Linked DNA regions of Homo sapiens: all the other regions are linked to region 3. Evidence: fine-mapped expression QTL. A gene starts in region 3. Each other region holds a variant in brackets. All regions are shown on one strand. Distances are from middle to middle. Region 1 has its middle 30 kb from the start of SGPP1. Region 2 overlaps LOC105370532 (a long non-coding RNA gene). Region 3 holds the start of SGPP1 (sphingosine-1-phosphate phosphatase 1). Region 4 has its middle 24 kb from the start of PPP2R5E.

Region 1 (8,107 bases), 30 kb after region 3:
CACCTGAGGTCGGGAGTTCGACCAGCCTGACCAACATGGAGAAACCCCATCTCTACTAAAAATACAAAATTAGCCAGGCGTGGTGGCACATGCCTGTAATCCCAGCTAGTTGGGAGGCTGAGGCAGGAGAATCGCTTGAACCCGGAAGGCAGAGGTTGTGGTGAGCCAAGATAGTGCCATTGCAGTCCAGCCTGGACAACAAGAGCAAAACTCTGACTCAAAAAAAAAAAAAAAGAAAAGAAAACCTTTACCTTAACTTTGAATATATATGTATCTGTCCTACATGAACTCTTTAACTGGTTCATCTTCGACATAATTAAAAAATCTCCATAAACAGAGGAATAGTGTTTGTACATAAAAATGGATAAATTTTTCTTCCATGATGAAATAACACTCTTGGACAATTTTTAAGTTTATTAATGGAGATAGGTTGAATTAATGTTTGGGGGAAAATACTGTAACTTGGCCTGGGGCAGTGGCACATACCTGTAATCCCAGCACTTCCAGAGGCCGAGGCGGGTGGGTCACTTGCGGCCAGGATTTTGAGACCAGCCTGGCCCACATGGCAAAACCCCATCTCTAATAAAAATACAAAAAAATTAGCTAGGTGTGGTGGCACGCACCTCTAATTCCAGCTACTTGGGAGGCTGAGGCAGAAGAATCGCTTAAACCTGAGTGGAGGAGGTTGCAGTGAGCTGAGATCACACCCATGCACTCCAGCCTGGGCGACTCCGTTTCAAACAAACAAACAAACAAAAGTATAACTTGATATACTATTCTATTATTTTGGGAACTCCAGAGCTGATATAGCTGAATTTCTAGAGGTACCTTTCCATAGGGTAATATTTAATTAATTAATCCATTACTCTTTGTTTAAATTTCAATTTCAGAACTATCACAAGCAGAGGGGATAAATTTTCTTTCTAAAAGGATCAAAATTTAAGAAATTAACATTGCGATTGAGTTATATTTTGGTTGACCATTTATTTTATTTTTTTAAATTTTTAATTTTTTTTTCCTTTTTTGTTTTTCCTTTAATTTTTAAATTTTTTTAAAAAGTAGAGACAGTGTCTCACTATGTTGCCCAGGCTTGTCTTGAACTCCTGGGTTCAAGCAATCCTCCCATCTTGGCCTTCCAAAGTGCTGGAATTATAGGCATGAGCCACCACACCCAGCCATGGTTGACCATTTTAAATTTATTTTCAGTCCATAAAAATAGGCCGGGCACTGTGGCTCACGCCTGTAATCCCAGCACTTTGGGAGGCCGAGGCAGATGGATTGCCTGAGGTCAGCAGTTGGAGACCAGCCTGGCCAACATGGTGAAACCCCATCTCTACTAAAAATACAAAAAATTAGCTGGGCGTGGTGACAGGCGCCTGTAATTCCAGCTACTCGGGAGGCTGAGGCAGGAGAATCGCTTGAACCTGGGAGGCGGAGGTTACAGTAAGCTAAGATCCTGCCATTGTACTCCAGCATGGGTGACAGAGTGAGACTCTATCTTAAAAAAAACAACAACAAAAAAATATATATATATATTTGTGGGCATGGTGGCATGAACCTGTAGTCCAAGCTACTCAGGAGGTTGAGGTAAGAGGATCTCCTGAGTCTAGGAGTTCAAGACTGTAGTGCACAATAATTGTGCCTGTGAATAGCCACTGCACTCCAGCCTGGACCACATAGCAAGATCCCCATCTCAAAAATAAAATAAAAATAAATAAAATTACTTAATTTAGAAAATTTTGGAATGGTAAATTATTATTATGCAATATGTGTGAACATAGATATATAAAGGTAACATTATAATCTTTAAATGATTCATGAACTCAATATGGTGACAATAAAAAAAGTGAGTTTAATTAATTGAGATTGATAGCCACATTCTACTAAATCAATAAAACAATTGGAACAGTTTTAAAATTTACAAGATATCATACCTATTAAAGATATGGAATGAAGGAAAATGCATGGATGACAGCTAGATAATTTTACTTGGAGTCGGAATTTTAAATTGGCAGTTATGAAGTACATGATACATAAAGAGACAACCTATGGACTAGGCACGGTGACTCACGCCTGTAATCCTAGCACTTTGGGAGGCCGAGGCACGTGGATCTCACTTGAGGTCAGGAGTTCGAGATCGGCCTGTTCAACATGGTGAAACCCCGCCTCTACTAAAAATACAAAAAACAATTAGCCAGGCATGGTGGTGGGCACCTGTAATGCTAGCTACTCGGGAGGCTGAGGCAAGAGAATCACTTGAACTTGGGAGGTGGAGGTTGCAGTGAGCCAAGATCACGCCACTGCACTCTAGCCTGGGTGACAGAGTGACACTCTGTCTCAGAAAAAACAACAACAACAAAAAAAGAGACAACCAATGAAATACATAGATGACCATAATTTTGAAGTTTTAGAAACTTACAACCCACAGGGACCTCAGGTTAGATTCCCTAATTATTGTTGCACGGTATCTCTCATGACATTTTTGTGAAAAAGAAAAAAGGTGAAAAAAGGGATATTATGAAAGTAAACATAAAAATTAAAAAATTTCCTTGCCACACTTAAGAATGAATACTGTTTTTAGTTGGTGTGCATGGGTGTGGTACCTGTGTGATAATATTCTGCATTGAGTTAGATAAATGCTTTTAATTTGAGAAGTATGGCTTAAAGTCTGTATTATGTTACATTTACACATTTTTGGCCAGTAAATTTAAATAGATACACAGTTAAAGGTACCAACTACTATTGCAATATTCTTACCATCCTGAGTCTATTATTAAAAGAGTTATTAAAAACATTCCTGATGCAGTTAACAAAGAACCTTGGCAAGTGAAGACCTCCTTTTACTTTTATCCGTTTTGTTATATATACAGTTACATTTGAGTGAAAGTAAGCCATAATTTTAAAGATTTTCTAATAGTATTTCACATTTATTGAACATTATGAATTGGAAAGTTTTGGATATTGTTGAACTATACAAACATTGGAAATGCTGGAAATTTTATAAAGGATAAAAATTTTAGTCATGTGTCTGAACAGTGAGTTTTACTGCTAGTGGATTAAAAGAAACACTTTTTTAGTCATGCTTGTTCAGAGAACTTAACTTTTATTGGAGTAAGATTGTATCCTCATGCATATGAAAAATAATGAGGAGGCTGGGTACGGTGGCTCATGCCCATAATCCCAGCACTTTGGGAGGCCGAGGCGAGTGGATCACTTGATGTCAGGAGTTTGAGACCAGCCTGACCAACATGGTGAAACCCCATCTCTACTAAAAATACAAAAATTAGTCAGGCATGGTGGCACACGCCTGTAGTCCCAGCTACTCGGGAGGCTGAGGCAAGGGAATTGCTTGAATCCGGGAGGAGGAGGTTGCAGCGAGCTGAGATTGCACCACTGCATTCCAGCCTGGGCAACAGAGTGAGACTCCACCTTAAAAATAATAATAATAATAATAATAATAATAATAATTAGGCTCAGATATTAATTGAACCCTAAACCTATTCAAAGATTTGTCCACTAAATGCTGTTAAATGGACTAGCCTCCTCTTAGTTTAACCTAAAGCTAAAAAGGATTAATTCTCTTCAGTTAGCTGTCTCTTGTCAAATATTTGTTTTCAGTAATTTAGGGCAAATGACCAAAGAAAGGAATACATGGATTGAAGAAGGATTAGAGTAGTGAAAATAGTTGTTTCATGTTTCAAAGAATGCTTTCAGTCTCTTTTATTCTTTATAGCATAAGCTGATTATTTTGTTTGACATGTTTTTACAGTGACTGCTATTGATAGCACCTCTT[T/C]GTTTTGGATGTTTTCTTTTATTTTCTTTTACTGACTTTGTTGGTTTAGTTTAGCTTATAATTCCAGCCTTTCCTTACTCTGCACCCCTACCTGGCTTTTGATGTATCCCTCTTTCTGTTGCTTACACAGAAAGGCTAACTTTTTTTCTATAAATAGAAATTCTAGACAACAGCTTAAGGGCACTGGTGGAAATGATATAGTTGTAGTAACTCCATGGTTTTATTCATTGTGCCTTCAGACCTTCTGGAAAGAGGATCCTTTGGCAAAAAAAAAAAAAGACTAGAAGAAGATACATAAAATGATAACAGTTGTCTCGCTTTTTTTTTTTTTTTTTTTTTTTAGACAGAATCTGGCTCTGTCACCCAGGCTGCAGTACAGTGTTTCAATTACAGCTCACTGCAGCCTCGAACTCCCAGGCTCAAGATATCCTCCCACCTCAGCCCCCTAAGTAGCTGGGACCACAAGCACATTCCACCACGTCCAGCCAATTTTTGTATTTTTTGTAGAGATGGGGTTTCACCATGTTGCCCAGGCTGGTCTCGAACTCCCAAGCTCAAGTGATCCGCCTGCCTCGCCCTCGCAAAATGCTGGGATTACAAGTGTGAGCCACCATGCCTGGCAGTCCCATGATATTTTGCCTTTATTTTATATTTATGTCATTTTCAAATTCTCTTAATTATTTTTACAATCTATAAAAATTAAACAAGACTTTATTTTAACTTGATTTTTAGTATACAATGAGTATTGCAAAGGTCAACAGTCCAAATGCAATAATTAAACAACTTATATCTAGCTATGCATTTCAGTTTGTTCCCTTTGAAAATTTATCCTACAGCCTTCTCAAAATATGAACAAAACATATGAAATCAAAGGGTACCAATTTTAAATGAGTGGTATTCAAACTTTTTTTTGCATGTTATTTATTTATACATTATATATGTATTTACTGTATTAATATATAACATACATTATGCAATATATAGACATTTTTAAGGATGAAATAAAAATATAAAGAGGCTTTTTTTTTCTTTTGAGACAGAGTCTCCCTCTGTCACCCAGGCTGGAGTGCAGTGGCGTGACCTTGGCATGGTGATGTGTGCCTTTATTCCCAGCTACTCAAGAGGCTGAGGTGGGAAGATCCCTTGAGCCCAGGAGTTTGAGGTTGCAGTGAGCTATGATTGCATCACTGCACTCTAGCCTGGGTGGCAGAGTGAGATCTTGCCTCCAAAAAATCTGTAGGTCTAGATTTTTTTTTTTTTTAATTTTAGCATATGTGCTGCAGAAGCGAGCACAGATTTTTTTTTTTTTTTTTTTTAAGAATATTTTAGGCTGGGCATAGTGGCTCACGCCTGTAATCCCAGCACTTTGGGAGGCTGCAGTGGGCAAATCACGAGGTCAGGAGGTCAAGACTAGCCTGGCCAACATGGTGAAACCCCTTCTCTACTAAAAATACAAAAAATTGGCCAGGCCTGGTGATGGGCACCTGTAATCCCAGCTACTGGGGAGGCTGAGGCAGGAGAATCACTTGAATCCAGGACAAGGAGGTTGCAGTGAGCCGAGACTGTGCCACTGCACTCCAGCCTGGGCAACAAAGCGAGACTCAGTCTCAAAAAAAAAAAAAGAATATTTTAAATTTATTTACATGCAGGCTGGGCACGGTGGCTCACGCCTGTAATCCCACCACTTTGGGAGGCCAAGGCTGGTCAGGAGTTCGAGACCAGCCTGGCCAACTAGGTGAAACTCCATCTTACTAAAAATACAAAAATTAGCCGAGTGTGGTGGCACACACCAGTAGTCCCAGCTACTCGGGAGGCTGAGGCAGGATAATCGCTTGAACCCAGGAGGCAGAGGTTGCAGTGAGCCGAGATCGCGCCACTGCACTCCAGCCTGGGTGACAGAGTAAGACTCTGTCTAAAAAAAAAAAAAAATGTTTACATGTTGTATTTCCATTATTTAAAAAAAAGATTTGAGAGTAAATAGCAGAAAAAGTAAGAACCAAATTTTTGCATGCCTTCGTGCTATACTTTGCATTCATTTTTTTGAGGATTGGATTTATCTACTAGTCAGGTTCAAAATTTGGCATCCCTGCTCGAAATCGTGTTTTCTAGAATTTTATAGGAATGGTTGAAAGCAAAAATGAAACTGTCAGGCACAGTCCATGAAGCAGAGGATGTGGGCAGAGCAAGGACAGAGTATGTCTAAGACTTACTTTACCATGTGATCTAGGAAGCCGTCACTGTACAAAGACAACCACTGCTGGTTTGAATTAAAATAATTTTTGGCTGCTTCTCTTCACCTTCTTGGAGATCCTTCCTCAGGAATAAGGAAATAATTCAGGAAATTCACGCAGGAGCTCAGAATGTATTTCCAATCTCTGTAGTCTCCATTTTTGGCAGGCACACAGATAAGGGGATGGGAAATTAATATTGAGCCACACACAGGGGGAAGAAAATCTAATGTTCCTGAAGAAAAGGAACCTTGTTCACTGAAACAAGAAAATATTAAGGAGTAAGGCTTATCAAGTATTAAATTTATATTTACTAAGCCACTCAGTGTTAGGTCAATATCCTAAGCAGAAAAGATCAAGGAGGTAATAAACTGAAAGAAATTTTTTTTTTTTACAAAGTTCTGAATCTCCATCTGCAATAGAGATTTGTTTTTGCATTTTGCTTCTCTTTTAGAGATTGAAAGTTAGAGATAGGATTGACACACTTCTACTTGTTTTTTAAGACTCAGCACAAATATTACTTCTGATGTGAAACTTTTGAGGCTACCCTGTAGTTTCCCTCCTATGCTTCCTCATAGCATATTGTATTTTTTTTTTTTTGAGACAGAGTCTTGCTCTGTTGCCCAGGCTGGAGTGTAGTGGCATGATACCAGCTCATTGAAACCTCAGGTGATCCTCCCACCTTAGCTTTCTGAGTAGCTGGGACCACAGGAGTGTGCCACCATGTCCGGCTAATTTTTTGGTAGTTTTTGTAGAGACAGGGTTTCGCCTTGTTGCCCAGGCTGGTCTCGAACTCCTCACCTCAAGTGATCCACCTGCCTTGGCCTCCTAAAGTGCTGGGATTACAGGCATGAGCCACTGCGCCAGGCCTGTACCTCTATTTTTATTTATTTATTTATTTATTTTGTGACAGAGTCTCGCTTTTCTGCCAGGCTGGAGTGCAGCAGCATGATCTCAGCTCACCGCAACCTCCGTCTCCCGGATTCAAGTGATTCTCCTGCCTCAGCCTCCCGAGTAGCTGGGACTATAGGCGTGCACCACCACGCCCAGCTAATTTTTGTATTTTTAGTAGAGACGGGGTTTCACCATGTTGGCCAGGATAGTCTTGATCTCCTGACCTCGTGATCCACCCTCCTCAGCCTCCTAAAGTGCTGGGTTTACAGGCGTGAGCCACCACGCCTGGCCTTGTACCTCTATTTTTGAAAAGCATTATGATATAATTGTTCCTTTAAAATAAAATGTGACTGAGGCCGGGCACCATGGCTCACGCCTGTAATCCCAGCACTTTGGGAGGCTGAGATGGGTAGATCATGTGAGGTCAGGAACTAGAGACCAGCCTGGCCAACATGGTGCAACCCTGTCTCTACTAAAAATACAAAAATTAGCTGGGTGTGGTGGTGGACGCCTGTAGTCCCAGCTACTTGGGAGGCTGAGGCAGGAGAATCGCTTGAACCTGGGAGGCGGAGGTTGCAGTGAGCCAAGATCGTGCCATTGCACTCCAGCCTGGGGGACAAGAGCAAAACTCCGTCTCAAAACAAACAAACAAACAAAAACAAATAAAACATGACTGAGACTATGTGTGTGTGTTTTTTTTCTTTTTGATCCACGGTACTGCAGGGTGAAAGAACTATTTTCCTTCCTACCTAAGGTTCATGACTGAGACCCCGTAACAAAAAATAGATTAACAAGAGAAAAGCATACACATTTATTTAACGTAAGTTTTACGTGATGCGGAGCCTTCATAAGGAAATGAAGAACCGAAGCAACAGTTAAACAGAAATGTTTTTATGCTAGATCTGATGAAGAAGTGGATAGTTATGGAGAAGTATGGCCGGAAAAAGGAGGTATGATCTAATGGCAGGAAGCTGGAGGGCATTTTGCAAGGCCTGTTTGTTCAGATTCTTCTCTGAGTTCCTGTGTCTTCATAGATAAGGATGTTCCTTTTCTTCAGGTATAGGGAGAATACTTCTCTAATGAGGGACTTATGACCTGCTTCAGAGAAAGGCAGAAATGTCCTTTTCGGCTTTATGACCTGCTTCTGGAGAAAAAAGGGGAAAGGTGAGAATGAGCCTCCTCCTTCTGCTAT
Region 2 (8,107 bases), 64 kb before region 3:
CACATTTCTTTAAGGAAATATATTGAGCACCTACGGTATGCTAGTGGGTATAGAAACATGAATAAGACATCCTTAGTTCCTCAATGAATTATCTAATGGCAGAAACAGATGCATAAAAAGTAAATACACTTCAGGGGATTCGATGCTGAAATAAAAGCAAAGACAATGGCCTCTTCTATGGAAAGGCAAAAAGCAACACTTTGCCCCAGTTTGTCTGTCATTTCTGGCTCCATGCCCTTGATAATGCTGGTTTGTTTGGTTGAGGTTTTGTGTGTGGGTGGCTGTACAGAAGGACAACATGACATTTTCTCTTACCAGTCCTGCCCTCTCCCGCCCGCAAGAAACAAAGGCTTTTTCTTCCTTGCTCACCAATCAGTTTGTCCATTATGCTGTGATTCTATTTCAGTCAGGATGCGTTATAAGACAGTAATTAAGAAGGCCAGGCCAGGCACAGTGGCTTACGCCTGTAATCCCAGCACTCTGGGAGACTGAGATGGGTGGATCACCTGAGGTCAGGAGTTCGAGACCAACCTGGCCAACATGGTGAAACCCCGTCTCTACTAAGAATACAAAAATTAGCTGGCCGTGGTGGTGGGTGCCTATAATCCCAGCTAGTTGGGAGGCTGAGGCAGGAGAATTGCTTGAACCCGGGAGGTGGAGATTGCAGTGAGCCGAGATTGTGCCACTGCACTCCAGCCTAGGCAATACAGTGAGACTCTGTCTCAAAAAAAAAAAAAAAAAAAAAAAGGTAATTCAAGAATATTTAATGGAGACTTTGGGACCTGAACGGGGGTTAAAGGATGGATAACAGCCAGATGGCAGGAGTGGCCAGTGCAAAAAATTTATCTCTGGGAAAGAGCACATGCATGGGGACTAGTGAAGCAGTCAGCCTGGCTGCAGAGAAGGTGTTGCTAGTTAATGGGAGATAAGGTTGGTACATGGGATAAAGTTATGGGCATGAACACAGGCACAGGTGTTTATATCTGAAGTAAACAGGGACTCTGTAGGCTCTTGAGCAAAAATAACATGATAAAATCAATACTTGAACATTAGTGTGAAAGTTAGCAGGATGCAAAATGAATTCCTGGTGTGCCTCCTTCCCAAACTCTCCACACTGGATTAGCCCCCACACTTGGCATGGAGCTAAATGAAGACTATCCCTCGAAGTTTTAGCAACGAAAGGGAAAAAAGAGTCAATGGCTGCCTATAAAGAGCAGCAGGGTTAAACAAAGATAAATTTGAAAAGAAGAGCAGATTTGGAAGAAAACAGCAATATTCAGTTTTTAATTCACCAAATATTTACTGAGCCTTTAGTACATGCAAAACACTGCTAAGTACTGTGCCGAATATACAGTTCCTCTTTTCAAGGAGAGAGTAATACAGGTACACAGCTCCCTATCATGGAATGCAAGAATGCTGGGAGAATAGGAATGAAGAAGAGAGTATTCTAGACAAGTGGCTCTCAAACTTTTTGGTCTCAGGACCCCTCAATACTCTTAAAAATTATTGAAGGCCTCAAAGAGCTTTTGTTTATGTGGGTTTTGTCTATCTATCAATATTTTCAATATTAGAAATTAAAACAAAAATCTGGCCGGGCGCGGTGGCTCATGCCTGTAATCCCAGCACTTTGGGAGGCCAAGGCAGGCAGATCATGAGGTCAAGAGATCGAGACTATCCTGGCCAACATGGTGAAACCCTGTTTCTACTAAAAATACAAAAATTAGCCGGGCATGGTGGCACGCGCCTATGGTCCCAGCTACTTGGGAGGCTGAGGCAGGAGAATCGCTTGAACCCATGAGGTGGAGGTTGCAGTGAGCCGAGATTGAGCCACTGCACTCCAGCCTGAGCAACAGACCAAGACTCTGACTCAAAAAAAAAAAAAAACCCAAAGTCTAAAAAGATGTATTTACCCATTTTTGAGTAGCGATATTAAACCCATTACATGTTATCATAAACATTTTAAGAAAAATATATTTTCTAAAACAAAGAAAAATAGGTACAACAAAGAGTTATTCTGTTTAATGTATTTGCAGATCTCCTTACTGTCTGGCATATAGAAGAAACCTGGATTCTCATATCTGACTCTGCCTTCAAACTATTGTGATTTTTTTTTTAAGTATTTGAAGCAAACCTGTCCTCATACAGACATGGAGTAGGAAAAGGGAGGAATTTTCAGACCCCTTGAAAGAGTATTAGGGACCCCCAGGAGTCTTTGGTTCACATTTTGAGAACCCCTTTTTTAAACTATAATTAGTTATATAATCCTCCAGTAGGATTTATTTGTCAAAAAAACTCCCTGCATTCCCAACACTAATGAGAGCTAATAGAATGGGAATGACACTTGTCAGTTTTTTTGTTTGTTTTTTTGCCCAGGCTGGAGTGCAATGGCGCGATCTCGGCTCAAGAGATTCTCCTGCCTCAGCCTCACGAGTAGCTGAGATTACAGGCGCATGCCATCACACCCGGCTAATTTTTGTATTTTTTGTAGAGATGGAGTTTCACCGTGTTGCCCAGGCTAGTCTCAAACTCCTGAGCTCAAGTGATCTACCTGCCTCGATCTCCCAAAATGCTGGGATTACAGGTGTGAACCACCGCGCCTGGCCTAAATTGTTTTTTTGTAATCTAAAAAGAGGAAACTAAATTTTACTAATTGTTGTGCCAAACCCCTATTAACCTCTGTAAGGAAGGCACCAGGTTCAAGAGGCCAAAGGAGAGACCCAGAACCAGCAAATAAGACCTGGGGTTTTATTAGGGGATTACATACATGGAAGAGAATCCAGTGGCAGCAGGCTGGAAAGGGGAATTGCCTTAATTAGAGAAATGGTCCAGTGGCAGTGGGATGGACAAGATATCTGTCTTACCTACAATCCAATGGTGGCAGGTTGGACAACATGACCCCCTGCCTATAGTCCGGGGCTGGTGCACTGGACATCACAGCCACATGGCCCAGTGACGACTGGCTGCGCAGAAAAACCACAATCATTTGCAAATAGTATGCAATTAATATAGCATTTTCACCTAACACCCTCCCTCTAACAACCTCCACTTGGCAAGCTGCATCCAACCCAAAACTCAGGGCCTAAATCCCCTGTATGGCCCCTGGTCCACTGTGTTATGGGATCCTTGGGGGTGTTGCTTTTCCAGCCGGAAACCTCTGTGGCCAGTGGCGCCTTTGCCTGAGTTTTGCTCAGGCCCATTGGGCCGAATCAGCCTGTCAGGCTGTGCTCAGCTCATGCTACCTGCCAAGATCCCACACCTTCTGAGATGAGTGGAGTGGAGTGGTGACAGGTGTGTGAGCAAGTGAGCACGGGGTCCAGCCACTGCAAACAGCCAGGCACATCGGCTGCAGTAGGGCAGGCAGCTCCAGGCACCACCACGGGCACTGGCTCCCTGCGAAGCTGCAGCTGAACCAGGTGTACCACAAGTAGCTTCCACAGCTGGCACTGGGGAACGTGGTGCTGCCCAGAAGCTTGGAGATGCCAGGAAATGCAGTGTCAAAGAGTATGTCACAGCCTTGGCTTGGGGAGCTTCTAGGTCTGAGCTCATCAAAGGGCCACAGCTCTTCTCTCCTTGTCTCCTGCAATGTGGCAAGCAAGGGGTGTGTTTCAGCCCTGTTTGTGTTACAGCTCTTTTAGACCCGCCATGCGGCAGGTCCTGAGTTCTCGTCCTGTGTCCAGAAAGAATGAGGTACGTGGACAAGTGGAGGGTGAGCAAGGCGAAGAAGAGCTTTACTGAGCAACAGAACAGCTCAGAGACCCACAGTGGGTAGCTCCTCTTTGAAGGGAGGGTGTCCCATCAAGTGTTCGGCTCTCAGCAGAGAGGAGACCCTGGGGTGGGTAGCTCCTCTCCATAGCTGGTCATCCTGTCATCTCCCTGAGTCTGGCTGAGTCAGGTTTTTATCAGCAAGGAAGTGCTTGCTGATTGGTCCACAGGCAGCCATGGGCGGGCCCAGAAAAAAGCACAAATTCCCACTCTGGTCTGCAGGGCTGGCAGCCTGGTCCCCAGGCTTCACGCCTTCCCCAGCTTGAAGGCGGGGCTTCACCAGGGACCTTCCCCTTTCCACCCAGGAGCCTGCCTGCCTCCTGCCACTGTTCATGGTGCCCAGGCTGCTCTTGCAGAGTGGTGCCTGCAGCCCAGCACTGAGCTGCCCTCAGACCCCACTCAGCCTCCCTCCCATGCTTGTTTGTGCCCAAAGCCCGGAGAGGGTCAAGGCGGCAGGGGGCTGGCATGTCAGCACTGCCCCAAGAATGAGCACACCTGGCTGGATTGCAACAGCACCTTGGCTTGGCCTCAACTTTGCACCAAGAT[C/A]TGATTGGGCTCCAGGAGTAAGGAGAGGCTAGGCAGCGGGAGCAGGCATTTCCGACCCTGCAGCTGCAGCTTGGGCGGCTGCAGGTGCATCCAGGAGGGTGGGGATCCTGCCTGCTCCATGGAATACACAGCCCCAGCCGCGCCTCCCGGCTGCAGCCAGCATTGTCAGAGAGGCTGCTCCAGATGGGCTGCCACTGCCATGAACAGGGCAGGACAGGGGTTCAGATGTTCATCATTGATAAGGAAAAAATGTCCAGGTTGGCCACTCCCAGATTCCCTAGCTTAGAACACACATTCAGATGCATCTGCCATACAGGGTCATTCTCAGGGTAGGCTTCACTTATTGCTCTCAGGTGTGTTTATGCTACACTAAGATTAGTGTGTAGGTTGACATTTGCATCTTCACCAGTCTGAAGGCCTGATGGTCACATCAGGTAGGGAGTATCAGGGACAAGAGCATGAATTCCCTAAGTGTCACTCTCACTTGTTTGTTCATTTTCAGCTGACACATTGTACAATGGTTAAGTAAAAGATTTCCCAATTATAATATTTAGCCTTAAGTAACTTCAAAAAATGGGTGTTGGTTCCCTGCCCAGATTCTACTTACTGGTCATGGTCCCCATTCCCTACATGCTGTGACTCTTGGCTGCTACCAGTTCATACCTGTATCTTTCTGTGAAGAACTGACCATAAATGATGGATGCTACCTAATCAGGAACATCACACTCTGCCACCACCCTCCTGCACTAACTCCAGGCGGCCCATAGCCCACGACTGAATAATACAGGAATACTAAAGCTTGCTTCCTTGCCTCAAGAAGAGACAAGTCCATGGTGCCATCCACACTCCAGAGCTGCTCATGGGATCAAAATGAAGATAGATTTCAACTGAACCCATGTCTTTGCCTAGCTTCTTCCTCTGTCCTATTCTGTTTCTCTCACTCCCTTACAGGTTTCAGCTGACATCACTCTCTCAAAAGAATCGCTGGCACAGGAATCTTCATCTCAAGTTCTGCTTCTTGAGAACATAGCCTGAAACAAGCGTATGATTTTAAAACAATCATGCAAAGAGGACAAGGATTGAAAAGATCAATAATGAAGATAAAAGCAACAACAACAAAATGGCAGAACTAGTTCTTTTCCTACTTCTGGTATAATTTCTTCTTAGCCAAAATATGTGATAAAAATGACAGTTTAATAAAACCTAACAAGATGTCAGTTAAAAGAGAACTACAAAGAGGACTATTTGAAAAAAAAATTCTATCCACTTTCTTTTTTTTTTTTTTTCGAAATGGAGTCTTGCTCTGTCACCCGGCCTGGGCAACAGAGTGAGACCTTGTCTCAAGAAAATTTTTAAAAAGGCAGTATCTTCTGATATTAAGGAAGATGGGTATTTCTAGTGGAATTTCAATAAAAATTTTTCTATAAATAGGGTATAGGACTAAAAAATGAGTATCCTGATTTTTTACTACTTCTTTGAATCTTGGCATCTTTTTCAATTATGTTTCTCATCTATGATAGATATTAAAACCAATAATTAAGATAAATTGAATGTAAACCCATACCTCCTCAGCAGATCTGTAGAACTTATGTAAAAAAATAAAAATACAAAATAAATAAAACCAGACCTTCAAGCATCTTTATTTCCATGATATTAAACCAAGATTAAAAAAAAAAAATCTAACGGTGGCCGGCACAGTGGCTCACACCTGAAATCTCAGTGCTTGGGAGGTTGAGGCAGGAGGGTCACTTGAGGCCATTGGAGTTCAAGGTTGCAGTGAGCTATGATAATGCCACTGCATTCCAGCCTGGGTGACAGAGTGAGACATTGTTTCTTAAGTAAATAACTTTAATGATTACTATTTATAATTGTAGCAAAATATTTAAAAGTTATTAATAAATAAAGTAGTTGGAGTCTCCCTTACTTGCTGACTATAATAGAGAGTCAAAAGAGAAATGCCACATTGAGCCTTGGCCTTTCACATATTAATTCCACTCAAAACAGAAAGATGACTTAGTGGATGTCATATTCTCACCATTTTACCAAACACGTAAGTCATCAGGATCTATATCCTACAGCAAAAAAAAAATAAAAAAAATAAAAAATCAATAAAAACAGGTAAATCACTCTTGTACTCACAGAGGTGGGGAGAAGACAGCAGCTTCCCCCTTCAAACTTCCAAGAGGGCAGAAGTTTTGACAGATATTCCTAACTTACTAGCTGAAGCAAAAATGTACGAGAAAGAGAATGGGTTCCCTCAAAAACAAGAAAATCCCAAAGGTAGCTGGTTACATATATAATATACAAAAATCAATAGCTTTCCCATAAATAAAAAAAAGGTTAAAAATAAAATGAATACAAGAGCTCTTATATTATTACAAGAAGAAAGATTATATACCCAGGGACAAACCAAAGAAATGTGCAGAGCCTGTATGGAGCCAAATGGAGGCTATTTAAGATGACTTCAGTGTATTTTCCCAGAGTCAGCTCAGTTCTTACTTCAGGGAAGACTGCCCAGACACACCCCACCCCGCCAATTAGATAAAATCACTTATTATAAGCTCACTGTATTACCACATCTCTCTCCTCCTTAGCACTTCACAACTTTACATTTATTTGTGCAATTATTTGCTTGATCTCTATCTCCTCTTCTGGATTTCTTAAGATCCATGATTACAGATACATTACTTTAGTTACATTTATATCTCTAATGCTTAGCAGAGTTCCTGGTGTAATAAGTACTCAATAAATATTTGAGTGAATGAATGAGAGGAAAATATATGCCTGTAATCCCAGCACTTTGGAAGGCTGAGGCAGGAGGATCACCTGAGGTCGAGAGTTTGAGACCAGCCTGACCAACATGGAGAAACCCCGTCTCTACTAAAAATACAAAATTAGCTGGGCATGGTGGTGCATGCCTGTAATTCCAGTGACACGGGGAGGCTGAGGCAGGAGAATCGCTTGAACCCAGGAGGTGGAGGTTGTAGTGAGCCGAGATCATGCCATTGTACTCCAGCCTGGACAACAAAAGCAAAACTCTATCTAAAAAATAGATATATACACACAATATATATTATATATAGTATATTATATATATTATATATAGTATATATAGTATATTATAGTATATTATATATATTGTATATTATATATAGTATATTATATATATTGTATATATAATATATATATTATATACGTATATACACATGCTGTGCTTCATAGACAATATTGTAAAAGTTAAATCTACGTAAATTAATCTGTACATGGATTATAATGACAATCAGAATAGCAACACAGCAACAGCAGTTTGTTTTGTTTTGTTTCTGAGATGGAATCTTGCCTGTGGCCCAGGCTGGAGTGCAATGGCGCAATCTCGGCTCACTGCAACCTCCGCCTCTTGGGTTCAAGCAATTCTCCTGCCTCGGTCTTCCATGTAGCTGGGATTACAGGCGCCCGCCACCATGCCTGGCTACTTTTTTTGTATTTTTAGTAGAGACAGTGTTTCACCATGTTGACCAGGCTGGTTTCGAACTCCTGACCTCAAATGATCCACCCGCCTCAGCCTCCCAAAGTGCTAGGATTACAGACGTGAGCCACCGTGCCTGGCCAACAGCAGCATTTTTTGAAACTTGACAAAATGTTAGTATTAGGATTCATCTAGATTCCAGAGTTGCAAATAGTTGCACAACAATGTGAATGCACTTAATGCCACAAAACAGCATATGTAAAATAGTTAAGATGGTAAATTTTTTTTTTTTTTTTTGGACAGTCTCTCTCTGTCGCCCAACCTGGAGTGCAA
Region 3 (8,107 bases):
TTTAATCCTTGGGAAAAGGTCATAACATTTTCTATCCTCCATCACCATAAAATTTATATACAAAACTCTTTAAGTAATTACTTGGAGCTATACTATTCCAATCTCTCCTTTGTCTTATAACGTACCTTAAAAAAATTCAGGCAGGGTGCAGTGACTCACGTCTGTAATCCCAGCACTTTGGGAGGCTGAGGGGAGTGGATCACGAGGTCAAGAGATCGAGACCATCCTGGCCAACATGGTGAAACCCCGTCTCTACTAAAAATACAAACATTAGCCGGGGGTGGTGGTGTGCGCCTGTAGTCCCAGCTACTGAGGAGGCTGAGGCAGGAGAATCGCTTGAACCGGGGAGGCAGAGTTTGCAGTGAGACAAGATCACACCACCACACTCCAGCCTGGGTGACAAAGAGAGATTTCGTCTCAAAAAAAAAAAAAATTCAAAGACTGGAATTTCAAAGAAGCTGAGACAGCAATCTTGAAGAAATACAACTAACTCCTCACTCATCTAATGGGTCAGAATCTCTGGGAAACTTACCCTGGGAAATGTAGAAATCTGCATTTTTAAACAACCCCGAGTTTGTACGCTGTCTTTTTTTTTTGAGATAGGGTCTTGCCCTGTCATCTAGGCTGAAGTGCAGTGGTGCAATCACACCTCACTGCAGCCTCAACCTCCCAGGCTCAAGTGATGCTCCCACCTCAGCCTCCCTAGTAGCTAGAACTACAGGCATGCGCCACCATGCCCAGCTGATTTTTGATTTTTTTTTGCAGAGACAGGGTCTCGCTATATTGCCCAGGCTGGTCTCCAACTCCTGGGCTCAAGGGATCCTTCCGCCTCAGCCTCCCAAAGTGCTAGGTGTACAGGGATGAACCACTACACCTGGCCATATACTGTCATTTTAAGTGTAAGTGAGGAATAATGAAACAGAAAGGATTAATTTAAAATGCTCTGGGTGGTGAATCTTGAGCAAATTTCAATGAGGGCAGAAACATTAAGTAGTAGGTAGTAGTGAAGTAGTAAAGCCAAGACAAAGGAATGGTATAGAACTCAGTTTCAAGAGATGTTTCAGCACGCCAGGCATATATAAGTAACCATACCTGTCCCAAATAAGCAGCTGAGGCACAGCAGATAGGCAAGACTGCCAACCAAAACTTATTAGAAAAACACCAGGCTTTCATTATTTAATTCTTCCCCCAGTTTCTAGGGGAAAGGCTTTCTATATAAGCCTCCAATGCAGTACAATACTAATTCACAGAGTAGAGGACCCAAACAGCTGAAGCAAAGGAAGGTACTTTTGTTTTCAATAGATAACAAGGATCTTTAAAAAAAAAAAAAAAAAAAAAAAAAGGAAAAGGAAAAGGAGGCCAGGCGCGGTGGCTCACGCCTGTAATGCCAGCACTCTGGGAGGCCAGTGGTGGGGAGGCCGATGAGCGGGGGGCGGCTAATTTTTTGTATTTTTTAGTAGAGACGGGGTTTCACTGTGTTAGCCAGGATGGTCTCAATCTCCTGATTGAGATCAGGAGATTGCAGAGAGCCGAGATTGCGCCACAGCACTCCAGCCTGGGCAACAGAGCGAGACTCCGTCTTAAAAAAAAAAAAGGAAAAGCTGGCACTTGGGAGGCCAAGGAGGGAGGATAACTTGAGCCCAGGAGTTCGAGACCAGCCTAGGCAATATAGTGAGACCCCGACTCTTAGGGAAAAAAAAAAGGAAAAAGGTTAAAAAGCCATCTTGTTTTTTGTACTGGATTATTAGTCAAACATTTATAAACACAGAACTTTCATATAAAGGAGGCTTAGGCCAGGCGCAGTGGCTCACGCCTGTAATCCCAGCACTTTGGGAGGCCGAGATGGGTGGATCCCCTGAGGTCAGGAGTTCAAGACCAGCTTGGCCAAAACAGTGAAACCACATCTCTACTAAAAATCCTTAAAAAATTAGCTGGTGTGGTGGTAGGCGCCTGTAATCCCAGCTACTCGGGAGGCTGAGGCAGAGAATTGCTTGAACCTGGGAGGCAGAGGTTGCAGTGAGCCGAGACTGCACCACTGCACTCCAGCCTGGGCAACAGAGCGAGACTCCGTCAGGAGGCTTTCTTTCAGAACAACTAACCGAAAAATCATGCAAATTTAGAGTGAAAAAATGTAAAATAAGAAATTTAAAGCATTACAAGATTAATTTTAATGTAACTGGTCAGTTTGCACATCTGTAAAATGACAGTTTGAAACTAAGTGATTTCTAACATCCGGTCTACTTCAAAGTCTAAAATTCTATGATACGCAAATTTCTTAAACTTTGAGTTAAATATACTAGGTTGTTTAAAAACTAAATCTAAGCTTATTCTGATAATTCAAATAACCCTGAAATGTTAGAATATCAATATCCCATAAACGATTCAGCAGTACTGTTTTCAGACTTCCAGTTAGTATGTGTCCAGAACAAATAAAGAGCAAAAATAGCTATTTTCTCTTACTTTGACTGCTAATACTAATAGCATACAAAATAGCTACTCACTGAGAAGGCATCATAAAAGGCTCTATTGTTACAGAATCCTAAAAGTCTCACGAAAATAAGAGAAACATCATCAGCTAACATCACCAGGCCAAACACAGCTCATTGAAAATCTTAAATTCTGAAATATTTAGATTAAATGAAAACTTCGAGATATTTATCTGTTACGCAAAACAGGTAGCACTGCTTCACAATCTGAACATCACCGTATAGCTCCTTTGGTTAAACAGAAAAAAACTTCCCATGGTACTCTTTCCTCCTAATTCTGCCATTCTTACTATGCACAATGCGTATTTTCCATGTACTGTAAGAGAGATGCACTACACAGAAGTATCCATGGGGACGAAATTTTATCTACACTGAAATTTAATGTGGGATAAGTAAGCTTATCATAATGGAGTTTTACACAGAATGTGTATTTCTCAATGTAAAATGATTTTGTGAAGTAAAGGGGGAAAAAATAGAGGAAGTTTGTTTCCTTAGAATCTCCACAATTACGCACTTTATTCTTAAAATAAGGGACTGGTCTGCAGGATTAACAAATCTTACAGTTCAAAGACAGATAAACATTGGAAGGCCAAAAGAAGTAAGCAAAATAAAAACGATTACCATTAAAAACTCTTCCCTTGGCAGTTTTCAGAGAGGGTTAAAAAAAAAAAAAATTTTCCTGATTGTCAGGCTGACCCTGCTGTCATATTTGCCATTTTTATAAACCCACTAGTTTGATCAAGAGCCCTATCTTTAAGAATAACTTTTAAACCATGCATTTTTAGAGTTAATGAGGCAATAACACTATAGTATTACAGTTGTAGCTCAACAACTGTTAGATACTACAGATTAGTGATCCAGAAGATAATCAAACTTTATCAGCAAAGTAGCAACCACACCCCTTAAAAACAGAACTCACCCTGTGCTCCATTAACTTCCATAAAGGGAACTTCGATGAAAATCGATTACTTCATTGCTTGGAACTAGCATGTTTGTTTTGGAATTACACTAACGTTTTGTAAACACTGTCTCACGGTAAAGCTAATGACTTTACCTCTTTCTGAAACAGTTTTAGGGAAGAAGGCACCATATATTACGGTGAAACTGGGTCTTAGTTTACATAGCGATTATTTAAAAAATTCACTTCCACTGTGCATTACAAGAATTAAAGCCGTTTAAAAAACTCAACCAAAGCCCAATGACAATGTATTACTCTAGGAAAAGTGTGTCCTTTGGGTTCTAAGGCATTAAATTGGAATTTAATATTAAAATAGAATTCAACGGCTAAGTATCCAGTTTCCCCCAATCACTTAATTTTTCAAAACCCAGAAAGGGCCTGTTTGCGAGTATTGTGAAAACCTGTGGAAAGAGAGGCTTTGGAGGGGAACGGTCGAATTAAAATAAATGCAGAGAGCAAAGAGAACTCCGAGTTCTTTGAACTCCCCCAGGCTGAACAGGACGAGAAGGAACCCTACCTGCCAGCGGCCATAGGTGAGGAGGACCATAGAAATGGGGATGGCGGTGCCGGACATGGCATGGGTGGAGGGCATGCTGTACTCAGAGTTGTAGAAGACCTCCAACTTGACCACGGGCGGCGAGGCGGGCCTCGGCCAGCGGATGATGTCCTTGGTGCACTGGCCCAGGTACATGACCAGCACCCAGATGACCACGAGCCTCCGGCCCACCAGAGGGTCCAGGTTCCAGATCCAGAAGGGGAAGAACAGGATGTAGAAGAGTTCGTTGCCCAGCTCCGTGCCGAAGCAGAACAGGCAGTAGAGCGGCCAGTTGCTCACGCGGGCCAGCTGGCCCTCCTCGCCCGTCAGCGAGTTGCGGCGCAGAGCGCCCGCGCGCCGCGGCGAGGCCGGGCCCAGCTCGGCCGCCAGCCCGTTCCGCACGCCGTTGGGGGCGCCGCCGCCGTCCGGCTTGGCCGGGCACTGATTGCGGTCGCTCCCGGGAGGCTGGGGGCCTCCAGGCGCCCCTGGCTGCCGCCCTCGCAGTCGAGGGTCTCCGGCGAGAGGCGCCTCCGCTTTCTCATCCTCCCTCCGGTCTGCTGAGCGGCGCGGCGGCGCTTCCACCCCGCACAGCCGCTGGAAACGGGCCACTTTCTGCGGGTCCTGCAGACGGCCAACCAGCTGGGCCAGGCGCTGCCTCAGCGACATGATAACGGAACCCCCGGGAAGGCGGGCCGGCCTCCGGCGCAGCCCCGAACTGTCCCCGCGCTCCTGGCCAGCGGCAGCGGAACCGGCACAGCGCTCTACCCTCCGGAGTCTGCCGGGTGACGGCGCCACAGGCCGCGCGCCCCCGCCCCGCGCGCGCCGCGCCCCGCCCCGCCCAGCCCCGCCCCCACCCGGGCTCCCTGAGGGGCCGGGCCGCGCGGGTCCGCCCTGAGCGCATCCGGCCGTGGCTTGGCGCTGAGGATCGGCGGGCGGCCGCTTTGAGGTCCCGGGTAATATCCACCAGCAGGCGTCGCGGCGTACGTCTGGTGGGACGCGGCGTGTCCCCCTGCTCCACCTTCAGCCCTTCTTCTCCGCGGGCTAGTGTCGCCGGATTCCCTCAGCCAGAAGTTGACTTAAAGAGGCCACGATCCCGGTGCCAGCTTGCGCAATGCCTGTGACCAAGCAGCCGGGCATCCTGCTGGCACAGAACCAAATGGTGAATGATCAATGAAGGCGAAGCAACTACCATGAGTTCGGAATCATTCGACTCAAGTAATTAACAAGTAATTACAGAGCTGTCCCAGGCGACTGATGTTCGGAAAACCATGTGCCAATTGACCAGTGGTGACAAGACTACATGTAGATCCCAAGACAGGGCCAGGTGATATTAACAGGTGTGGTCTGCAAAAGAAAAGCCAGCCACCTACAAATTCAAAATACTGTGTCATTTATCAAATATTTTGGTATATGTTAAGGGAGCACAGGTGTTCTTAAGTGTAAAATTTCCTTTTCCTAGATTCTAATACCTAGAGGGCTTGCACAGAATAAATGTAGAGAATGAATGCAGTGTATAGATTTTTGAGTTTGGTAACGTTAATTTAGACGCTTAACTTCCGTGTCTCACAAGTTACCAACTTGACTTCTAGCTAGAGCAGTTTATAAGGTCTCTGAACTCCTCAGGTCAGGTGAATGTCTTTTATATATACCTAGAGAGAGAGAGATGAGACAGGGTCTCGCTATATTGCCCAGGCTGGTCTCCAACTCCTGGGCTGAAGTGATTCTCCTGCCTTGGCCTCTCAAAGTGCTGTGTTTACAGGCGTGAGCCACCACACCCGCCATGATCAGGTGAATGTCTGTAATTAAAGAATGTGAACTACTTCCAAGAAACAGGCTTGAAATTGTCCCATGCCCTTAAAACAGTAGAAATACTTTCCTTCAGGCGTGGTAGTTCATGCCTATAATCTCAGCACTTTGGGAGGTCGAGGAGGGAGGATGGCTTGAGTCCAGGAGTTTGACAACAGCCTGGGCAACATAGGGAGATCCCACCTCTACAAAAAATGAACAAAATTAGCCGGGCAGGGCTGGGCACAGTGGCTCACGCCTGTAACCCCAACACTTTGGGAGGCCAAGGCGGGCGGATCACCTGAGGTCGGGAGTTCAAGACCGGCCTGACCCACATGGAGAAACCCCGTCTCCACTAAAAATACAAAATTAGCCGGGCGGGGTGGTGCATGCCTGTAATCCCAGCTACTCGGAGGCTGAGGCAGGAGAATTGCTTGAACCAGGGAGGCAGAGGTTGCGGTGAGCCGAGATCGCGCCATTGCACTCCAGCCTGGGCAACAAGAGTGAAACTCTGTCTCAAAAAAAAAAAAAGAAAATTAACCGGGCATGGTGGCCCACACCTGTAGTCCCAGATAACTGGGGGACTGAGGCGGGAGGATTATTTAAGCCCGGGAGGTCAAGGCTGCGGTGAGCCCTGATTGTGCCATTGCAATTCCAGCCTGGGTAACAGAGTAAGACCCTATCTTAAAAAAAAAAAAAAAAAAAAAATTTCATTTCGCAGGGACAGGTACTCTCCTCCTCCCACTCCACTTGCTAGGCTGTGGCCATAGAAAGAGGAATAAATCATCACCCATGCTCTCAAGTTGTTCACAGTTTAGGGGAGATAAAGAAAGACAGGACTACTTCTAGAGTATAGAGAAGATGGCAAGTGTAAAACAGACATAAACAGCATGCCTCAGAAAGGAGGACAAGTTTGACTAGGAACAGGAAGAAAGGTGTTAGGAGGTGATCCTGTAGAGCTGGATTGTTTTACAGAGCAAAATATGAATAGGTGAAGAAGCCCATTTTAGGAAGAGAAAGTGAAGGAAGATAGGGATATGCAAAAATGTATTTGGTAAACAATAGTCCATAGAGACCAGGTGCAGTGGCTCACTCCTTTGATCCCAGCACTTTGGGAAGCTGAGGTGGGAGGATCACTTGAGGTCAGTAGTTTGACACCAGCCTAGGCAACATGGCAAGACCCTGACTCTACAAAAATATTTTCTAAAAAATTAGGTGGGGGGCTGGTGCAGTGGCTCATGCCTGTAATCCCAGCACTTTGGGAGGCCAAGGCTGGTGGATCACTTGAGGTCAGGAGTTTGAGACCAGCCTGGCCAACATGGTGAAACCCCATCTCTACTGAAAATACAAAAATTAGCCAGGCATGGTGGCAGGTGCCTGTAATCCCAGCTACACGGGAGGCTGAGGCAGGAGAATGGCTTGAACCTGGGAGGTGGCAGTTGCAGTGAGCCAACATTGTGCCTCTGCACTCCAGCCTGGGCAATAGAGCTAGACTCAGACTAAAAATAAAGAAAAATAAAAAAATTAGCTGAGTGTGATGGCACATGCCTGTAGCCCTAGCTACTTTTAAGGCTGAGGTGGGAGGATTGCTTGAGCCCAGGAGTTAGAGGTTACGGGGTGCTACGATTGTACCACTGCACTCCAGCCTGAGCAGCAGAGTAAGACCTTGTCTCAAACAGTAAAAATTAAAAAATGAAAAAAAAAACCAAAAAACAATAGCATATAGCATAGAGTAGCAAGGGTGATTGGAAATGGGATTACAAAGGGAGGATAGGATTAGGTTGTAAATCCTTGAATACCAAAGGGATTTAATTTTGTAGGCAGTGGGAGCCATGGAAGGCTTTTAGGCTAGGGAGTGACACCATCAGAACTGTGTTTTAGAAAGATAACTGGGAAAGAAATCAAAGACGATTGTCAGAGGTCAGAGAGTGAAGGCTAGGTAAATAATTAGAAGATTATTGCAGTCATCAGGTGAGAAACAATGACAGCCTGAACTAGGACCTTGGTTCTGGGGGATTGGAAGCGGGGGATAGATTTGAATGAAATTTTGGAACTAGGAAAAAATTAAAATGTTTCATTTGAATTCATAGGACTGCAGGCAAATATTAGTCTGTTCCTGGTTAGAACAAACTTGTGTCTAATTTCTTTTTTTTTTTTTCTTTTTTGAGACGGAGCCTTGCTCTGTCACCAGGCTGGAGCATGGTGGTGTGATCTCAGCTCACTGCAACCTCTGCCTCCTGGGTTCAAGCGATTCTCCTGCCTCAGCCTCCTGAGTAGCTGGGACTACAGATGCCTGCCACCACACCCAGCTAATTTTTTGTATTTTTAGTACAGACAGGGTTT
Region 4 (8,107 bases), 160 kb before region 3:
AGTAACAATACACTAGTGATATTAGAAAGATGAAACAGGTTGCATGTTATTCTCTAGAACTGCCATGAGCCTAAAGCCATCCAAAGCATATAGAAACCACCAGGTATATCTTCCTTAGGTTCTGGAGTGACATCAGAGGGAATGACAGAGTGAAGACTTTTGAAAATATACTCTTTCATTAGAACACTGAAAACACTGACAAAAATTGTCAAAATCAATTTCTTTGGAACACTGTACAATAACAAACGTTTTGCAGCAAGTCCAGGAGCATTTATTCGAGAAAAATGGCTGAATCTTGGTAAGAACAGTGAACTTTGTGACAATTTATCTTGTCCTATTCTCATCCCCATCTTTTTAGGTCCACAGTAATCTTGAAAACCAACTACTCTGTATCATGGCGAACGAACAGCCTAGTAGCCACTGTAGAAAACCAAATGGGTTTAGAGCTCCCCAAAGCACCATTCACAGAGAATTCTCATTATTTGACCTGTCTGGCAGTTCCCTGGAAACCTCCACTCACAGGACTTGTCTTTATCTGATCTGACTCAGAACTCAGTGCAAAAAGTCTTTTCCCTCAGGGCATTGGTCAAAAACAATCAGTAACAATTATTTAACATTACAGTTGCTATGGTAATGATAACAACTAGAGCAAACCAGAAGCTGAACAAAAAACCCGAAAAGAGAATCTGGGGGCTGGGTGCGGTGGCTCACGCCTGTAATCTCAGCACTTTGGGAGGCTGAGGCAGGTGGATCACCTGAGGTCAGGAGTTCAAAGCAAGCTTGGCCAACATGGTGAAACTCCATCTCTACTAAAAATACAAAAATTAGCCAGGCATGGTGGCACATGCCTGTAATCCCAGCTACTCGGGAGGCTGAGGCAGGAGAATCACTTGAACCCAGGAGGTGGAGGTTGCAGTGAGCCGAGAGTGCACCACTGCACTCCAGCCTGGGCAAAAGAGCGAGACTCCAAAAGCTGAGGTATAAGATATCCACAGGGGGCTTTGGAAAACTCTTTAACACATTCCTTGGAATCTACAAGTCCTTGAGCATGTGCAAAGTTGTGCACTTGCCCAGAAAATGCCTGAAAGTCCCTATATTCTCATTTCTGTCAGACCCTGAGGCCCTTCACAAGCAGAAAGTAAAGGCTAAGGCAGAGTTGTGAAAATCCTGCCTGAGCATTGAAGGCAGGCCCCCCCACACAGTCTCTCAGGAAAGGCTGCGAGACTTATTGGTTCCTGGAATTTGAGGAACTCTGTGTCCAGTAATCAGCTGACTACTAAGCTAACTGAACAGATTTCAGTGCCACACCCTTGAAAAGGAATACTGACTTGGCTGGGTGCAGTGGTTCATGCCTGTAGTCTCAGGTCTTTGGGAGGCCAGGCATTTGAGACCAGGCTGGAAAACACAGTGGGACCTATCTCTACAACAATTTAAAAAGAAAAAGGAAAGAGACTCAGCTGGGAGCAGTGGCTCACGCCTGTAATCCTAGCACTTTGGGAGACCGAGGCAGGTGGATCACCTTAGGTCAGGAGTTTGAGATCAGCCTGGCCAACACGGTGAAACCCTGTCTCCACTAAAAACACAAAAATTGGCTGGGCGTGGTGGCGGGTGCCTGTAATCCCAGCTACTTGGGAGGCTGAAGCAGGAGAATCTCTTGAACCTGGGAGGCGGAGGGTTGCAGTTTGCCAAGATCACGCCATTGTACTCCAGCCTGAGCAACGAAGCCAGACTCCATCTCCAAAAAAAAAAAAAAGGAAACAGACAAAAAGGCATAAGAATGATATAATGGACTTTGGGGACTCAGGGGTAAGGGTGAGAGGGGAATGAGGGATAAAAGACTGCACACTGGGTATAGTGTACACTGCTCGGGCGATGAGTCCACCAAAATCTCAGAAATCACCACTAAAGAACTTATCCATGTTATAGTCTTGCCAATGCACCACAATGTAGCAGTCTCTCCTTGCCTGAGGTAGTACCCAGAGTCCTTTGTCTCACAACCAAGAAAGTTAAGGAGCACGGACACCAAGGATGAGGTTAGAACAAAAGTTTAATAAGGGAAAGAAGAAAGCTGTCTTCTGCGGAGAGGGGACCTGAAGAGGGTTGCCATTTTTTACAGCTGAATGCAAAGGCTTTTATAAGAAACCAGTGAGGGCTGGGCATCTCATTTGTATAAGGCGTGAATTTCTGGTAGCTTACCCCATCCTCCTAGTGCGCATGTGAGCCCTTAGCTTGAGTTACTCCATATTGCTTTGTTCCCCTTACTAAGCAAGTGTCAGAGGATGGAATTTTCCATTGCGAGTATGTCTGGGCAAGTCACCTGGGTAACCTTTCTTATCTGTGAGACTGTGGGCATGTATTAGGCAAGCCCCCTTGTGCAAGTTCCCTTACCTGTGCCTGCAGGCTGTTCTTTTGTTTGAAAGGATTCAACCGAGGACCCACCCTAACTGCCTGCCTGACTGGGTTTTTTTCTTTCTCCTCTCTCATAACCAAACACCATCTGTTCCCCAAAAACCTATAGAAATAAAAATAAATAATAATTTAAAGAAGAAAATAAAAGAAAAAAACTAGCTGGATGTGGTGGTGCATGCCTATAGTCCTAACCACTCAGGAGGCTGAGGCAGGAGGATTGTTTGAACCCAGGAATTGAAGGCTGCAATGAGCTAGGATTGATTGCATCACCGTGCTTCAGCCTGGAAGACCAAGAAAGACCTTGTCTTTAAAAAAAAAAAAAATACAAACTTTACAAAATGGGTTCAGGAAGTCACTAAACAAACAAAGAAACAGCAGCAGTAAAACTCCTGGGGAAAGAAGGGAATCCAATTTCAATTATTGCCATGTTATATTATTTTGAATCCCCAGTTTCCAACAAAAAATTACACAACATGCAAAGAACAAGAAAGTGTGTCCCAGGCACTGGGAGAAAACAGTCAATAGAAACTCCCTGAGGAAGCCTAGACTTTGTACTTACTAAACTTTAAGTAAGATATTTAAAATATCTTTACGGCAAGCATGGTGGCTCATGCCTGTAATCCCAGTACTTTGGGAGGCCGAGGTGGGCAGATCACCTGAGGTCAGGAGTTCGAGATCAGCCTGGCCAATATGGTGAAACCCAGTCTCTATTAAAAATACAAACATTAGCCAGCGTGGTGGTGGGCGCCTGTAGTTCCAGCTACTCAGGAAGCTGAGGCAGGAGAATTGCTTGAACCCGGGAGGCGGAGGTTGCAGTGAGCCGAGATCACGCCATTGCACTTCAGCCTGGGCAACAGAGCGAGACTCCGTCTCAATCAATCAATCAATAAATAATAAATTACCTAGGTGTGGTGATGCATGCCTGTACTCCCAGCTACTCAGAAGGCTGAGGTGGGAGGATCACTTGAGCTCAGAAGTACAAGGCTGCAGTGAGCCATGTTCATACCACTGCATTTCAGCCTGGGTGACAGGACAGGAGCCTGTCTCACAAAAAAAAAGAAAAAAAAAAAAAGAAGAGTTAAAGAAAAGCATGAGAAAGATATCTCAGCAAATCTCAATGAAAACATGAAGAAATAGAAATACTTATTTCTCTACATATAACCAAATAGAAATTTTGGAGTTGAAAGTATAACTGAAATGAAAAACTCTCTAGAGGTGCTCAACAGTAACCTCTAGTTTGCTATACCCGTTCGTTACAAAAGCTTGAGGCCAGGTGCGGTGGCTCATGCCTGTAATCCCAGCTCTTTGGAGGCCAAGGTGGGCAGATCACTTGAGGAGTTGGAGACCAGCCTGGCCAACATGGTGAAACCCGTCTCTACTAAAAATACAAAAATTAGCCAGGCATGGTAGCACGCGCCTGTAATTCCAGCTACTTGAGAGGCTGAGACATGAGAATGTCTTGAACCTGGGAGGTGGAGAGGTGGAGATTTTGGTGAGCCGAGATGGTGCCACTACACCCAGCCTGGGTGATTATGACTCTGTCTCAACAACAACGATAAAAAAAGCTTGGGAGTGTGTTTGGGAAGAGACTGCTATATTATCATTGACATCATTAGTTATCTCTGCCTTTTCCTTTCTGGAATGTTTGAGCAGAAAAGACCTGGATAGACCCGGCATGGTGGCTCATGCCTGTAATCCCAGCACTTTGGGAGGCTGAGGCGGGTGGATTACCTGAGGTTGGGAGTTCGAGACCAGCCTGACCAACATGGAGAAATCCCGTCTCTACTAAAAATACAAAATTAGCCGGGTGTGGTGGCGCATACCTGTAATCCCAGCTACTCGGGAGCCTGAGGCAGGAGAATTGCTTGAACCCAGGAGGCGGAGGCTGTGGTGAGGCGAGATTGCGCCATTGCACTCCAGCACTCCAGCCTGGACAATAAGAGTGAAACTCTGTCTCAAAAAAACAAAAGTCCCTGATAACTCAGTTTGTCTTGACCTCTCATTTAATAGGTAAGAGAACCAGATAGCTTATGAGATCTTGCTAAACTCCTCACCTTAGCTCCCAATGTAATTTATGATGTCTTGATGTAATGCCTTGAGACCTACAAATTAACATAACCAAGAATTTAAAGTAGATATGTTGCAGGGATGGAGGAGTGACTATAAATCTCATCTATTCCCATTTGAGCTAGCTCCATTCTCCTCCAGTGTTTCAAGAAATACCTTCAGGGAACCGCTGCTTTCTTTCTCCCACAATCTGTAGTTCTCTTGCTTTCCAACTTGGGCCCGGCAGGATCGCTCTTGCAAAGAAGGATGG[CAAG/C]AAGAAGAGCCTTTCTGCCATCAGCATTCACAAGCGCATCCATGGTGTGGGCTTCAAGAAGTGTGCCCCTCGGGCACTCGAAGAGATCCAAAAATGTGCCATGAAGGAGATGGGCACTCCAGATGTGCACATTGATACTAGGCTCAACAAAGCTGTTTGGGCCAAAGGAATAAGGATTGTCCCATACCGTATCCCTGTGTGGTTGTCCAGAAAACGTAACGAGGATGAAAATTCAACAAACAAGCTCTATACTTTGGTTACCCATGTACGTGTTACCGTTTTCAAAAATCTACAGTCAATGTGGATGAGAACTAACCACTGATTGTCGAATACATCAAATGAACTTATAAAACAAACAAACAGAAATGCTTTCTATTTCTCAACCTATGCTTTTTTTTTTTTTTTCTTTTTTGACAGTGTCTCACTCTGTGGCTCAGGCTGGAGTGCAGCAGTGGCACAATCTCGGTTCACTGAAACCCTGCCTCCCAGGTTCAAGTGATCCTCCCACCTCAGCCCCCAACTAGCTGGGACTAAAGGCGCATGCCACCACACCTGGCTAATTTTTTTTTTTTTTTTTTGTATTTTTAGTAAAGACAGGGTTTTACCATGTTGCCCAGGCTGGTCTTGAACTCCTGAGGTCAAGCAATCTGCCCACCTCAGCTTCCCAAAGTGCTGGGATTACAGGTGTGAGCCACTTTGCCTGGCCTAAAAATGCTTCATTTTTTTTGTTTGTTTGAGACGGAGTCTCACTGTGTTGCCCAGGCTGGAGTACAGTGGTGCAATCTCAGCTCACTGCAACCTCCACCTCCCGGGTTTAAGAGATTCTCCTGCTTCAGCCTCCTGAGTAGCTGGGCTCACAGGCGCCTGCCACCACACCCGGCTAATTTTTTGTATTTTTAGTAGAGACAGGGTTTCACCATGTTGACCAGGCTGGTCTCAAACTCCTGACCTCAGGTGATCCACCCGCCTCAGCCTCCCAAAGTGCTGGGATTACAGGCATGAGCCACTGCACCCGGCCGTAAAAACACTTTCTTTACTGAAACAGTGGCATTGCTGCTTTGATAGACTGTTATGATCACATGGATTGGATTTGGGCCACATACACAAATGCTTGTACAAGCATTTGTACTAAGCAAGTGCTTAGTACAAATTTATTTCAATGAATATTGATTAAATTAGTAGTCCTTTCCTCAGCTTCTTTCTTGCTGCCATTTCTTTGCATTTAAGGGGTAGGAAGTAGGAGGAACAGAGAGACAGTTCTTTCCCACAGGTAGGCAGTAACATGGCATCATCACTGCTATCCCGGGTCTCCTTTCCATTTCAGAAAATCCAAAAACTCATTTTACAGAATTGATCAAATTATTGAGTCCTTGAGCAATTTGAATAGCACACAAGCCATATCTTAATTTTTGTTTTGTTTTGTTTGTTTGTATTTTTGAGACCGAGTTCCATTCTGGTAGCCCAGGCTGGAGTGCAATGGTGTGATCTCAGCTCACTGCAACCTCTGCCTCTGGGTTCAAGCAATTCTCCTGCCTCAGCCTCCCAAGTAGCTGAGATTACAGGCAACTGCCACCATGCCCAGCTAATTTTTGTATTTTTTTTTTTTTTTTTTTTAGAGACAGGGTTTCACCATGTTGGCCAGGCTGGTCTTAAACTCCTGACCTCAGGTGATCCACCCACTTTGGCCTCCCAAAGTGTTGGGATTACAGGTGTGGGCCACCACACTGGGTCCATACCTTTGTATTCTGATCACTTGATTATCTTTCTAGCTCTACTACCTTTCATTCTTCCTACTTTACACTTTATGCAAAAGCTAAGAAAAACTACTTGAAATTTCCTGAATGCACCTGAAAATAATGCAACCACTCTTTGCATTGATTTTATATAAAAAATGAAGATGGCCGGGTGTGGTGGCTCATGCCTGTAATCCCAACACTTTGGGAGGCTGAGGCAAGCGGATCATTTAAGGTAAGGAGTTCAAGACCAGCCTGGTCAACATGGTGAAACCCCATCTCTACTAAAAATACAAAAATTACCCAGGCATGGTGGCAGGTGCCTGTAATCCCAGCTACCTGGGAGGCTGAGGCAGGAGAATCTCTTGAACCTGGGAGGCGAAGATTGCAGTGAGCCAAGATTTCGCCACTGCACTCCAGCCTGGGCAATAGAGGTATACTCAGTCTCCAAAAAAAAAAAAAAAAAAAAAGGCCAGGCACGGTGGCTCATGCCTATAATCCCAACACATTGGGAGGCTGAGGTGGGCAGATCACTTGAGGTCGTAGTTCGAGACCGGCCTGGACAACATGGTGAAACCCTGTCTCTACTAAAAATACAAAAATTACCCGGGCATGGTAGCACGCGCCTGTAGTCCCAGCTACTCAGGAAGCTGAGGCAGGAGAATCGCTTGAACATGGGAGGCTAAGGTTGCAGTGAGCCAAGATCGTGCCACTGCACTCCAGCCTGGGCAACAGAGTGAGACTCCATCTCAAAAAAAAAAAAAAATGGAGATAAGAATATGTGACAAAAATAGCTAATTGTCTCCCATTATCTGTTCTTCCCTTTCACAGGTATAGAATGCCAAATTTTTCGGTGGAGACGTGATACCCAGAATAAATACTATATTTCCCAGAGAATTTTGCTGCTAATTGTGGTTAGGAGACTGTGTTGGGCTAATGGGATGGATGTGGACTAAGAAACTGCATAATATGATAGTTGTAAAGTTCCTTTGGATTTCTTCTGTGCTATCTGGAGTGTGGATGTGATGGCTGGAGCACTAGCCAATGTCCTGGACCATAAAGGATGAAGGCCACACCTTGCTTTTGGAATAGTTGGATAAAGAAGTCTAGGATCCTGAGGTCTTTGTAGAGACAGAAATAAATTGCTTGGTTGTTTAAACCACTGTTATTTTATTTTATTTATAATTTTTTTAAGACAGAGTCTGGCTTTGTTGCCCAGGCTGGAGTTCAGTGGCACGATCTCACCTCACTGCAGCCCAACTTCCGCCTCCTGGGTTCAAGTGATTCTCCTGCCTCAGCCTCCCAGGTAGCTGGGACTTCAGTAGGTGTGCACTATCATGCCTGGCTAATTTTTGTATTGTTAGAAGAGACAGGGTTTCACTATGTTGGCCAGGCTGGTCTCAAACTCCTGACCTCGAGTAATCCGCTTGACTTGGCCTCCCGAGTCCTGGGATTACAGGTGTGAGCCACTGTGCCCAGCCTCACTGTTATTTTAGGTCTCTGCTCCAAGCAGTGGAAACTGCTTGCTTTGTAAAAGCTGTTCCCTCTGCCTGACAGTTTGCTTGAAGTATTGGTCTAGGTTGCCTAGAGAAACAGAACTAATAGGATGGATGGATGGGAAAATAGATAGGTAGACAGACAGACA

Evidence for each region. PIP is the estimated chance that this variant, and not a neighbour inherited with it, causes the effect. A credible set is the group of variants that fine-mapping cannot tell apart.
Region 1: its variant is the best candidate, but not a certain one, in a credible set for the expression of SGPP1 in nasal epithelium (TOPMed, PIP 0.81).
Region 2: its variant is the best candidate, but not a certain one, in a credible set for the expression of SGPP1 in whole blood (TOPMed, PIP 0.61).
Region 4: its variant is the best candidate, but not a certain one, in a credible set for the expression of SGPP1 in whole blood (INTERVAL, PIP 0.55).

What each region holds. Positions count from the first base shown.
Region 1 is chr14:63,753,651-63,761,757 of GRCh38, forward strand. It overlaps a transcript of SYNE2 not described here. Among named protein-coding and RNA genes, the nearest start is that of SGPP1, 30 kb to the left of the region's middle. The variant T/C (reference allele first, on the strand shown) is at 3,794.
Region 2 is chr14:63,659,665-63,667,771 of GRCh38, forward strand. It overlaps LOC105370532 (a long non-coding RNA gene), which reads left to right. Exons shown (of 3, transcript XR_001750790.3): 3 at 5,260-5,741. Among named protein-coding and RNA genes, the nearest start is that of WDR89, 22 kb to the left of the region's middle. RefSeq lists an enhancer at 2,782-3,782. The variant C/A (reference allele first, on the strand shown) is at 4,309.
Region 3 is chr14:63,723,300-63,731,406 of GRCh38, forward strand. SGPP1 (sphingosine-1-phosphate phosphatase 1) reads right to left here and starts at 4,766. Exons shown (of 3, transcript NM_030791.4): 1 at 3,962-4,766. The coding sequence starts at 4,645. RefSeq lists enhancers at 3,912-4,413, 4,058-4,107, 5,068-5,257 and silencers at 4,368-4,467, 4,758-4,857.
Region 4 is chr14:63,563,265-63,571,371 of GRCh38, forward strand. It overlaps the pseudogene RPL31P5. Among named protein-coding and RNA genes, the nearest start is that of PPP2R5E, 24 kb to the left of the region's middle. RefSeq lists an enhancer at 488-1,310. The variant CAAG/C (reference allele first, on the strand shown) is at 4,727.